4 separate regions of the Homo sapiens genome follow, and regions 1, 2 and 3 are each reported to be linked to region 4. The links are microRNA targets in miRTarBase. Many come from high-throughput screens and were not tested one by one. Region 4 holds a microRNA gene; each other region holds the end of a gene's coding sequence. Distances are between the middles of the regions.
The links. Region 4 holds the annotated microRNA hsa-miR-4252 (GGCCACUGAGUCAGCACCA, at 1,521-1,539, opposite strand). A microRNA usually pairs through its seed, bases 2 to 8, with sites in the 3' UTR of a target mRNA and lowers its output. Matches are read on the target gene's strand: a 7mer-m8 pairs with bases 2 to 8, a 7mer-A1 pairs with bases 2 to 7 and ends in A, and an 8mer does both.

Region 1 (3,141 bases), not on the chromosome of region 4:
GCCCGGCCCTCTACAGTTTACATCCAGTTACCACGCTAGAGGCTCAAGGCAGGCAAGTTTCATAGTCCCCAGTTTTCAGATGAGGAGTTGGGATTGGGATTGGGGTTGGTGCCAAACCTGGAAGATATCAGTCTCTCATTTTTGTTGTTGTTGTTGGTTGCACTTTTCAGAACCAAGAGCCACTGAGAGAGGAAGACTCTGATTTCATCCTGACCGAAGGCGACCTGACATTGACCTACGGGGACAGCACAGTGACTGCAAATGGCTCCTCAAGTTCGCACACCGCCTCCACGAGTCTGGAGGGCAGCCGGAGAACGAAGAGCAGCTCGGAGGAAGTGCTGGAGCGAGACCTGGGAATGGGAGACCAGAAGGTTTCGAGCCGGGGCACCCGCCTAGTGTTTCCCCTGGAAGATAATGCTTGACTTTCCCCCCAAGCCCTGGCGCGATGGGGTAGGCTCCCGATGGGGTGAGGACAGCTGCAAGCCCTAGTGTTGTTGGAGGTGGGGCAGTGACTAGATTGAACTAACTCTTCTATTTTATTGGGGTCTGAAGCTATTGTAACACTTAAAATTTAACTCACAATGCAGATGGTGAGGCAAAAGTGTCTCTAAATTCAGACAAACGTAGACCTATTCCCACTTTTTTCACATAGTAGTGCGCTGTTTCAGAGTTAAACAAACAAAAAAAAATAGCATGCTTTAATGGTCTCCTAATTCATTCACCTGCAGTATCTGAACAAGGCGAGGCAGGTGCTGGGTGGGGGGATTCCTCCCATGAGAGGCTGCATCTCAGTACACAGCAGTGCAAGTCAAGCTGACCATAGAATTATCAAGTTAAAGAGAAGGAAGGCAATTGAGATCGGAACTCCAAGGATTATGGGAAACTTGGTGTTAAATGGGACAGAAAACATGAAAAAGCAATTTGGAGGCTCTGGCAACGAAGTCTGCTTGACTGCAACCTCATATCAGGATTCCTGACTTTATGCTGCCTGTGTTTTTTCTAGACTGAAGATTTGAAAATACATCCACGAACATTTCAACATGGAACGAAGAATTATAGTTCCTTCTCTGGCTATATCCATAAAGAAGTAGTTATGAAATGTTTAAAACCAAAGGCAAATAGTGTTATACTCTTATTTTTTGATTAATCTGAGGAAAGGAGGTATTTAGAAACTGATGATGGTATCACTGCAAAAAGCATTCAACTTTTTTTTTTTGTTGAGATGGTGTTTCACTCTGTCACCCAGGCTGGAGTGCAGTGGCGTGGTCTTGGCTCACTGCAACCTCTGCCTCACGGGTTCAAGTGATTCTCCTGCCTCAGCCTCCTGATTAGCTGGGATTACAGGTGCCCACCACCATGCCCAGCTAATTTTTTGTATTTTTGGTAGAGATGGGGTTTCACCATGTTGCCCAGGCTGGTGTCAAACTCCTGACCTCGTGATCCACCTCCCTTGGCCTCCCAAAGTGCTGGGATTACAGGTGTGAGCCACTGCACCTGGCCAGCATTCAACTTTTGAGGGCTACCATATGAGCTGACAGCCTAGGGAAATAATCACTAGGACTGAAGTATCTACTCTGGGTTTAGAAATAACACCAAATTTTGTAGGATGCTATTATCTGGGAAAGGGAAGGCAGCAAGAAACCTACAAGGCACCAGGCTAGAATTCAGAGGGAAAGAAATCTCAATGCAAAAAAATTACTGCAAAGAAATACAAGATAGTAGTCTCAAGACTAGGTAGAATTCCAAACTTTGAGCCGACGAATGCATGAGATTTCAGTGGCCACCTGAGGAATCAGAGGGCAAACAATGGAACATTAAGTATTTTCAGCCCACTAGAAAGCTCTGTCTTCTATAAGCTTAAGAGTCCGAGTGTCTTTACACCACTGAGTGCCATGCAGAGAAGGGTCATTTTCCTTGTATCTGGGGAGGCTGCTGCACCAGCTTAACATGTGGGTGTGATTTGAAAGTTAGGTTTTCAGTTTGGATTCTTTCTGGATGAGCTGTTCTGTCTGCCCACACCTGTAGTGCTGAAATACAGAAAGACCTCTCGGGAAAAGTTTGAGTTTCTCTTAATGTCTCTGTGCTTCAGTGCTAGCTTATTTTTGGCAACCCAATTTCTAAAAAATGCTTTCAATAACGTGGGCTTTTCTTTTTTTCTTTCTTTCCTTTTTTTTTTTTTTTTTGAGATGGAGTCTCGCTGTGTCACCCAGGCTGGAGTGCAGTGGCGCGATCTCGGCTTACTGCAACCTCCGCCTCCCGGGTTCAAGCGATTCTCTTGCCTCCGCCTCCTGAGTAGCTGGGATTACAGGCACGCGCCACCACGCCTGGCTAATTTTTTGTATTTTTTAGTAGAGACGGGGTTTCACCATACTGGCCAGTTTTTCTTATGATGGAAGACAAAATATTGTGTCCCAGTCTAGTCCACCCGTAGTGAAATCAGTCATTTAATCTTCTCAATTCGCATGTTTAATGCTTAATTTTTAAATAAGACATTGCTTCACAACTTTGTGTTTGAATTGATAATTTGTGCAAATCAGGAAAATACGTATTTAATTAGGTTGAGCCATATGAGTTTGCTGATATTCGACCATTTTGTAAAAACAGGAGTGGCAATTTCATATGGTTCAATAAAATAAAATTGAGACCGGGCACAGTGGCTTATGCCTGTAATCCCAACACTTTGGGAGGCTGAGGCAGGAGGATCACTTGAGCTCAGGAGTTCAAGACCAGACTGGGCAACATGGCAAAACCCTGTCTCTACAGAAATACAAAAATGAGCCAGGCATGATGGCACATGCCTGTAGTTCTAGCTACTTGGGAGGCTGAGGTGGGAGGATTGCTTGAGCCCAAGAGGCAGAGGTTGCGATGAGCTGAGATCATGCCACTGCAATCCAGTCTGGGCAACAGAATGAGACCCTGCCTCAAAAAAAAAAAAAAAATACAGTTGAATGATTTTTATTCTCCTCTTTCCTTTTTATCTACAATAAAGTCCATTTTGATTTTATGGTCATCCATGGGCTTTGGAAGTTTGAAAAATGCTAAACAACCTATCCAAACCCATGAGCCCTCAGGGTCAACTAGGCTAGTGAAGGACTTAAGAATAAGACCTACACCCCACAGCCAGAGAAAGAGCTTTCATAG
Region 2 (3,000 bases), 100 Mb from region 4:
CTGCCCCAGCATTCCCAGTAGCCGAGATTACAGGCATGCACAACCATGCCCAGCTAATTTTTCTACTTTTAGTAGAGACGGGGTTTCACCAGTGTTGGTCAGACTGGTCTCAAACTCCTTACCTCAGGTGATCTGCCCACCTCGGCTTCCCAAAGTGCTGGGATTACAGGTGTGAGCCACTGCGCCTGGCCTATATTTTCTACAATACATTTGCACTGTTTCTATGACAGAATGTTTCAACATTTTTCAAAGGAAGTGATGATTCATGAAATTACATTCTGCTGATAAATCAAGAAGACTGACAATTGACTACTGAATCTAGTAATATGGAAGTCACTGGTGACCTTGACAGTATGTTTATGTGGTGTGGGGAGAGCAAAACCTGACTGAAATAGTTTGGCAGTTCCTCAAAACATAGTTAAACACAGTTATTGTATGACCCAGCAATTACAGTCCTAGGTATATACCCAAGAGAACTGAAAATATATACCCATTAAAAAACCTTGTACACAAATATACACAGCAACATTACTTGTAGCTGCCAAAAGTGGAAACAATCCAAATATTCATAACGAATGGATAAAATGTGGTATATCCATGATGGAATATTATTCAGCAATAAATAATGAAGTGCTGATAAATGCTACAACATGGATAAACCTTGAAAACATTAGACTAAGTAAAAAAACACCAATCACAAAGAAAAACATATTGTATGATTCCATATATATGAAATGTTCACAACAGGCAATTCCATAAAGACAGAAAGCTTTTTAGTGCTTGCCTATGGCATAAGGAGAGGTGATGGGGAATGACTGCTAATGGGTATAAGGTTTGTTTGGGGGATGTTTTGAACATTTTGAAAATGTTCTAAAATTATAGTGTTGATGGTTGTACAACTCTGTAAACATATTAAAAACCAGAGAACTGTGTACTTTAAAAAGCTGGATTTTACAGTACATGAATTATATTGCAAAACAGCTGTTAATAGAAAGCAGCAAAATCTAGCTGATCTGTGTATTTCACTTCTTTACAGTATTTTCTGATTTACTCTTTTGTTGCCATTGCACAGATTTTTTTTTTCTTTAACCTCTCTTACTTCCAGAGATTTGATCCTTTTTTTTTTTTTTTTTTTTTTTGAGACGGAGTCTGGCTCTGTCGCCCAGGCTGTAGTGCAGTAGTGGCACAATCTTGGCTCACTGCAACTTCTGCCTCCCAGGTTCAAGCGATTCTCCTGCCTCAGCCTCCTTAGTTAGGATTACAGGTGCCCGCCACTGTGCCCGACTAATTTTTGTATTTTTAGTAGAGACAGGGTTTCGCCATGTTGGCCAGGCTTGTCTCAAACTCCTGACCTCAGGTGATCCGCCCGCCTCGGCCTCCCAAAGTGCTGGGATTACAGATGTGAGCCACTGCACCCGGCCTGATCATTTTTTAATAACATTGTTCTCCTCCTCCTCCTTTAAGAGACAGGGTCTCACTGTGCTGCCCAGGCTGGCCTCAAACTCCTGGGCTCAAGCAGTCCTCCCCACTCAGACTCCTGAGTAGCTGGGACTACAAACACACCACCACGCTCAGCTAACTCCCCATCTCTTAATCCCTATCCCTACACCATTCCCAAACTTTCCCAAATCAAAGATTAACCAGACAGAGAAAATACACTTTTACAGTTTAAGAAATATTAAATGTGATAACTGTTCAGGATCTACTTTTTACACAATCTCAGTAACGTATGTACATAGTCCCAAAAAAAAAAAAAGCAGCATTTGCCTGGGAACACATCACTATAAGCAAACAAAACATCAAATGGCCTGAATTCTAAAATACCTTTGGATTATATAAAATTACATTGTAAAGTTACAAATGTTGCTCATTCTTGAGAAATGTTTGAATGTTTAAATAATGTTGCCATAATACATATTATTTCACGACATTAAAAAAAACAATGGTGAATACAAGGTATCATCATTTTAAGGGTAAAGAGATAAAGCAAGTACATATACAAATCCACTGGAAAAGCTAAGTTTGGAGCTGATTTCCTCTCTTGAATTGTAAAATTTCAGTAATACACAGTCACTATCTACTGCTGGAATAATGCCTGAGCAATTTAGGTAAAGATACAAACAATAACAAAAACCCTGCCCAAATATTCAAACTTGGAGAATTCTAGTTAAAATAATAGAAAAATATAAAATTTATCCTTCCAAAAAAAGGTATCTAAGACAAAGGTATAGATACCCCATGTAAATTATTCACAAGTCATATGTGAATCAACCTTTTCTGTATTCCTTAAAGTTGTACAATCGACTGATGAAAAAACAAGCTTCATATTCAAAGACACTTTCAGAACACACCTACAATTAACTTATTAATGCTGAAGTATATTTTAAAAAACAGCTATTTCACTGAAGTCTTTACAGGAGATTTTATTTTTGGTGCATCTTCTTACGCATTTCTTCAAGAGCTGCTTCTTTCTCTCTCAGCACCTGCTTAAGTCTTCTTATTTTTTCATCTCGAATGGTTTCTTCTAACTCCGGTGGTGTCACTGGGAAAATATCTTCGGTATAATTTTTATTGAAGAAATGACTTTGTTCATAAGCTGCATTTGAATTCAAAGTGCCTTTCTCTTGCTTCTCATGGGTATAGTATTCCATCTCAGTTCTCTTTTCTTGTCTGGTTTTGCTGTGACTCGTGAGAATGTTATGTTGTGACACATCTGAAGTTGGTAAAATACTGCTTAGGAGTTGGGAACCGGTGACATTAGCTTCCCCATTTATGATTGCGTTATAAGCATTCTCTGTTTTTCTCTTCTTTATGTGATCCATCTTCTTATTAGTTTTTGCTTTTCTTTTCTTATCAAAATTCTGCTGCAATATTGAATAACATTCCAAAACAAAAACGAAATGTTACTGCTAAATGCACCGGGTACTACCAAACTTAACAACGTCTGCAGAAACAAATATCTAGCTATTACAATTAACAAAATTTATGGAAGACAACTAC
Region 3 (3,120 bases), not on the chromosome of region 4:
ATGCTAAAGTTACATGATGGAACGGAGAATCCTTGATTTATATAGAGACCATGAATGGAATTTTTCCTTACATCAGTTGCTCAGGATAGCACACCTAGCATGTGTGGCATTCTTAACAACTCTTTCTGTCCCCCTAGAATTCTTCAACGACCTGGATCTGCTCATGGGGCCGGTCACCCTGCACAGCAGCATGGAGCACCTGGTCCAGTACTCCCAACAGGGCCTGCACTGGCTGCGGAACAGCGCCCACCTGTCATAGGGACCTCACCCTGGGGCCAGAGTGGGCTCTGGTCTCCACAGATGGCTCAACGTTTTTGGACACTGTGCTACTGAAACTCCCAGCCACAGCATTTATCAGACTGCGGTGAACATTTCCTCAGCATTGAACAATGATCTTTTGCAGGGCATGTGTGTTTGTATGTGTGGGTATATAAGAAGCCGCCTGTGTATGTGTGTAAGATACACAGCTCTTCAGAACACACCTTCTTTGTCTAGTTTCCATAATCCCAGGCTAGACAAAGTGATCAGAGGTTTCTGACTAGAGGAAGTACACACACACACACACACACACACACACACCGTACACTCACACACAATCACAGACACACACTTTCTATTCCATTCCAGTGCTAAACCGTGACTTCTTAGAAAATTCAACCAAAATCTCATGGGTTAGTTAACCAGGTGCAATACAGCACACCAAAAGCTTGACTGCCAGTGAAGATGGACCTGCTCTTATACTGTTGATTACTTTCAGTATTAATATACTATTCCCCAATTATTTTTTGATTGGTATGTATTAATGGGTAATTGAATAATGAAAATAAGCCAGGTATTTTTGTGCCGGAAGTTTACTAGATTGCATGTTACCAAATACCCTGCTCTTCCTCTAATTCCCTTCCCCCATCTGACTCTATTATCAACTAAATGCATTCCAGGCAAACAGATGGACACTCACAGCCCTTCCCAGCCCCACCTCCAAGTAGTATGCAAATGGCACTGAGATTTAGCAAAAACGCGGCGTCTTTGAAAGTTAACAGACACTAAGGTAGCAGTGCCTGTGTGTTGGAGCTCAGTTAGGAGTTGAAGTTTTCTGCACCTGTGATAACAAGCCCACCAGCCACATGCATTTCTTCTTCCTGCCACTGTGACTCGGTGGCTGTAGAGCCACATGGCATTTGTCAGCCAATCTGTTTCAAGTCTTTTCTTTCCACCAATAGCTTTCTTACAGATTTTCTTGGCTAAATGAGGCCATTACCTAGATTGTCCCTTCAGTAGGAGCCTGAATCCTTCGCTTACCAGGCTGAGAGCTATTTGCCATGATAATGCTGATTCTCTCACTCCTCATGCAGAATGTGCACCTGCAGCCCTTTGATGCGTTTTGATTTGGGGGCGATTTTTCAGGCTTTGATTAGCAGGCTGCTTGCAATGCAGAAGATCACAGTTCCTTTCTGGGGCAGCAGCAACCAGAGCCTCTTCCTGTGTCCTGTGTGTCTGGTATGTTTACACCTTGCTCTGAGTTTTTCTCTTGTTTTCTTTTTTTAATTAAGTTTACATTTTAGTTTCTTTGACATCTTGTTTACAGTTTTTGTCTGATGTTTTTTCTTTTGTAGTGTCTTATGCCCTAGATTTAGTCATCTTGTTAAATATATTTGGATATGAAATCTTGACGAAAAGAAAATAACTCCTGAAAAAGAGGGTCTATCTTGCCACACGTTAAAAACAAAAATAATGTCCTTGTGGCCTCTTACTTGATAAAGTTGCACCAGGACGGTCTGAGAAAGGCAGGCGGTGTAATATGTGGTGCAATCCATTTTTTCAAGGTGATGACGGCACAAAATACTTAGACTAGATGCTGATCCATAAACATTCACTGATATTCTTACAGGTTGGTTTGCAGTGTTAACATTTTTGTTAGCCTGATCTGTAGGTGGGAAGTAAGATCATCATAATTCCTTAGCTCTGAGCACTGATTCAAAATTGTATAAATGACTGAACAACTTAGATGATTTGAAATTAATTGAAAATAAGAAGGGCTTGTGGAATTTGCATTTGGCTTTGGCCTTCAAGCATTTGGAAATATTAAGAGAATTTCCATTTTACATGTCTCCAACTGGGGTGCTTCTTACAACCCTTTCACTTTTTTTTTGAGACGAGTTTCGCTCTGTTGCCCAGGCTGGAGTGCAGTGGCACGATCTCGGCTCACTGCATCCTCTGCCTCCTGGGTTCAAGTGATTGTCCCGCCTCAGCCTCCCAAGTAGCTGGGATTACAGGTGTGCACTACCATGCCCAGCTAATTTTTGTGTTTTTAGTAGAGACTGGGTTTCACCATGTTGGCCAGGCTCGTCTCAAACTCCTGACCTCAGGTGATCTACCCGCCTCCACCTCCCAAAGTGTTGTGATTACAGGCGTGAGCCACCACACCCAGCCCTTTCACTAATTTTTGGCAGAGTTCACAATCCCATCCTATGTCAGAAACTTGAACCTAACTTAAGAAATTTTGAGTCATTTTTTTGGAGGACTGAGGCTTTGTTCTACCTACTCTTGAAGAATCCTGATGAAATATTCAAACACATAAAGGGATGGCCCTGGAGGTCTATCCTGCATACCTGGAGAGCTTCTCTGGTCCTGCCCACCTTGAAAGTTGCAGACTTTGTTGTAACATCTATGTGATGAGCTTCCCTGTGAAGCCCCATTTGACAGGTGGGCCAGCAGTGTTTTATCAGCACTCTGATGGCCCACATTTCCCAGGAAAACTTCTTGAAACTTACCGTTGTGGGCAGTGGTCAGAGCGTGTAGTTCTTATGACTGTCTTGTTTCATCTGTGGAGCACGTGTGGAGCACGTTGGTACAGCAGTTTCTGTGGGGTTTGGCATGGGTGATTTTGGTTAGTAACCATCCTCCAATTGTTGCTTGTGAAAGTCATTCATAACTTGTTCCTTTTACTTAGTTTTGTTGTTACTGCTGTTGTTGTTGGTTTGGTTGGTTTTGAGACCGGGTCTGGCTCTGTAGCCCAAGCTGGAATGCGGTGGCGCGATCATGGCTCCCTGCAGCCTCAAACTCCTGGGCTCAAGCAATCCTCCTGCCTCAGCCTCCCAAGCAGCTGGGAAGATAGGCACG
Region 4 (3,141 bases):
CACCGCGGCCACAGACATGGGCGCCCTGCCTATCCACTACGCTGCCGCCAAAGGAGACTTCCCCTCCCTGAGGCTTCTCGTCGAGCACTACCCTGAGTAAGATCACCCCTCTTAAGGGGTCCTCTGGGTGGGCTGGGCCAGGGCTTTGGGGGATGCCTGGGATTTTCCACGCCTCTCTGGCACTCCAGGGCAATGATCCCTCCAGTGGCCATCCTGGGGCCAGAGGGCCAGGCCAGAGAAATGGCTCCCACTCAACATGAAATTTTCCCCTCCTGGAAAACCCCTTCTGGGGCTGCCCCCAGAGCCCTGCAAGCAGGTGCTCCCAGCATCCTCAGCTGCCCGGCCGCACACAGCTGGACCTGGGAGGCTGGGCACACAGGCCAAGGTCACCTGTTCCCCTTGGGCTGCTTCTGCCGCAGGGGCTCTCTCTGGCTCAGGCTGTGCTCATTTGCAAGACTGTTCAGGATGGAGTCGGGGGCAGCAAGGGCAGGAGCGCCTCCTAGGCCCTAGTCAAACAGGCAGAAAGGGAACCCCATCAGTTACCAAGCAGTTAAGGGAGAAAGGCCCCTCCCAGACCCCCACCCCACCTCCTGGCCCCAGAGCCCCTGGCTGGAGGCCATCCAGAGAGCATCTTGTTATCTCCTGTGGCCCCTCAGCCCGTTCCTACTATCAAGGGAAGCATGGGGATCCCAAACCTCCTGGGGAGTGGGCTGGGAGCTCCCCTGGGTGGGGTGGGGGGTCACACAGAGCAGGGGGCATGTGTGAGTCTTGGGGAGGGAGGGAGGGAGGGAGGGACTCAGGTGTTAGGTGCGCCTGGGGAGGCAGGGATCCTGGGGAAAGCTGCCCAGGGCCTGTCTGAGAGGGTAGGGTGCCAGATGCCACAGGGGTCTGAGCGGGGAGTGGGGTGCTCTGATGGGTGACCCTCATTAGTCTAAGTGGGAGCCTGAGATGTAAATGTGAATGTGGACCCAGCCTCAGGACGAGAGCAGCTTTGGTATGAATTCACTGCTTCCAAACAAACTAGGATTTGGATCATGTCAAAGTCAGTGGGATTTAGACTAGGAGGGCCCCAGGGACCCTTGAGTAGAGGGTTCCAACTGGCTCCTGTCAGCACCTCTTGGAGGCTGTCCCAGATTCCTGAGTTAGACTCTCCAGGTTGGGGCGTGGGAGCCACACCTGGGACATGTCCCCACCCTCACGGCGGTGATTCTGATGCACCTGTCCCACCCCCTCACTTCAAGCAGAGGAGAAGGACAGGTCTTGAGAGGGGCAGGTGCCCCTGATGGCGGGACCAATATGGCCCAAGTGTGAACTGGAGGACGCTGAGCCCACCTTCTGCAAGTGCTGGTGGGGACCGCCAGCCCCTGAGCCTTCCTCACTGAGAAGCCGTGATCCCTCCGTGGGCTGGATCCCAGGTGTTAGGAAGACTGGCTGTGCTGTGGAACGCCCTCCAGGGCTCCGGGGCTGGGGGACCCTGACCCCCTCCCAGGCCATGCCAGGTGCTGTGTGTGATTGGGCGCTGGTGCTGACTCAGTGGCCAGATGGCCTGGACTGATGAGCTGCCAGCCCCCCAGGAGTCACCATGAATCTCAGGGAGGTGGACAGAGGGCTTGGGCTCCGTTCCCCACAGCAGCATGTGACTCGACTGATAAGAAGGTGTCTTTGTGTGGTTGCCAGGCTGGGCTCACGCAGGAGGGGCAGCTGGGAATTGGGGTTGGGGGCTGGGGTACCCACTTAACCTCCTACCTTGGGGGTAGGGATTCCTGCTCATCAAGGCTGTGGATATGAGGGCTGGGAGCTGGGGAGGGCAGAGGCTTGAGCTGCCCCAGGACACAGGGCCCCATCAGGGGACCCAGGTGGCCCAGCTTCATGCTCTTGTGAGCCTCTGGGGCCTGCTGTGAATCGTTGTGAATTATTCACAAGGCTCAGCTCTCTCGCTGGCGCGTGGGTGAGCACTGAGGGAGGAAGGGCTCCCGGACCTGCTGGTGGGAAACTCGATCCTGCCAGGGAGGCTGTGGGTGGCCACGGGACGAGGAAGTGACACGCTGCAGAGGAGCTGGAAGGCTGGACAGCCTCGGGGAAGCTCAGCTAATTCCAGGTCTATACCTTGGGGTGTTATAACAGAAAGCGCTTGAGATTGCAGGAATGTCCTGCACGTCCCCCACACCTCCCCGTCTGTCCCGTTCATGGGGCCAAGTCTTCCCAGAAGCAGAGGACTTGTCACACTGACCTCAGGGGCTGCTGCCACGCGGGACCCTCCCTCTGAGCCCTTGTAGAAAAGAGATCTCTCATACAAAATTAGCCAGGCGTGGTGGCGCATGCCTGTAATCCCAGCTACTCAGGAGGCTGAGGCAGGAGAATCGCTTGAACCCGGCAGACGGAGGTTGCGGTGAGCCAAGATTGAGCCATTGCACTCCAGCCTGGGCAACAAGAGTGAAACTCTGTCTCAAGGGGGAAAAAAAAAGAAAAAAAAAAGGCATCTCTCAGTTGGGAGGCATGGGGCTGGCAGGAGCCGGGCTGGGCAAGTCCCAGGCTCTGGGTCTCAGGGAGATTGAGTTGGGAGGATTGGCCCTCCCGGCAGGAGCTCCAGTGGCTGATGGAGGGGAACAAGGGGTCCAGATCCCTAATCAGGGCAGAGTGAGGAGGGGCAAAGAGCAGGTGGCCCCAAGGCCGGTGGCCATCCTCCCAGGAGGGTCCTGGAGCCCAGGAGCTCACTCTGTCCCCCTCACACCTGCTTCTGGCTGCCCCAGGGCCTGAGCAGCTGGGCAGGGCTGTGGGGGTCAGGGAGCTGGGGATCAGTTGGGACCCTGAGGCTTAAGCTTCCAGGCTGGGGAGTGAGGAGGCTCCAGGCTCTTCCCCTGGGCTCGTGGGTGCTGCCAGTCACAGCAAGCTGGAAAACCAGTTAGCCCAGAGATTTTATCAACTTCAGCAGGTGCCTCCTTCCCCGAAAGCCTCCCCTACCCCCGACCAGACTAGACTGGAATGGGATTGGAAAGTACCTGGGGCTGGGTACGGTGGCTCATGCCTGTAATCCCAGCACTTTGGGAGGCCGAGGCAGGTGGATCACCTGAGGTCAAGAGTTCAAAACCAGCCTGACCAACATGGTGAAACCCCGTCTCTACCAAAAATACAAAAATTAGC

Region 1: miRTarBase lists SLC9A7 as a target of hsa-miR-4252. Seed matches in the 3' UTR shown: 7mer-m8 at 1,256-1,262, 7mer-m8 at 1,775-1,781, 7mer-m8 at 2,220-2,226, 7mer-A1 at 2,606-2,612 and 7mer-m8 at 2,652-2,658.
Region 2: miRTarBase lists LRIF1 as a target of hsa-miR-4252. The part of its 3' UTR that is shown has no 7-base or 8-base seed match.
Region 3: the mRNA of AFF3 is a reported target of hsa-miR-4252. Seed matches in the 3' UTR shown: 8mer at 2,185-2,192.

The regions. Positions count from the first base shown.
Region 1 is chrX:46,604,233-46,607,373 of GRCh38, reverse strand. SLC9A7 (solute carrier family 9 member A7) reads left to right here. Exons shown (of 17, transcript NM_001257291.2): 17 at 171-3,141. The coding sequence ends at 422. Among named protein-coding and RNA genes, the nearest start is that of CHST7, 32 kb to the right of the region's middle.
Region 2 is chr1:110,945,536-110,948,535 of GRCh38, forward strand. LRIF1 (ligand dependent nuclear receptor interacting factor 1) reads right to left here. Exons shown (of 4, transcript NM_018372.4): 4 at 1,655-2,864. The coding sequence ends at 2,424. Among named protein-coding and RNA genes, the nearest start is that of LRIF1, 17 kb to the right of the region's middle.
Region 3 is chr2:99,548,613-99,551,732 of GRCh38, reverse strand. AFF3 (ALF transcription elongation factor 3) reads left to right here. Exons shown (of 25, transcript NM_001386135.1): 25 at 138-3,120. The coding sequence ends at 259. Among named protein-coding and RNA genes, the nearest start is that of REV1, 60 kb to the right of the region's middle.
Region 4 is chr1:6,428,324-6,431,464 of GRCh38, forward strand. It overlaps MIR4252 (microRNA 4252), which reads right to left and starts at 1,573; the gene lies at 1,511-1,573. ESPN (espin) reads left to right here. Exons shown (of 13, transcript NM_031475.3): 2 at 1-96. RefSeq lists an enhancer at 235-354.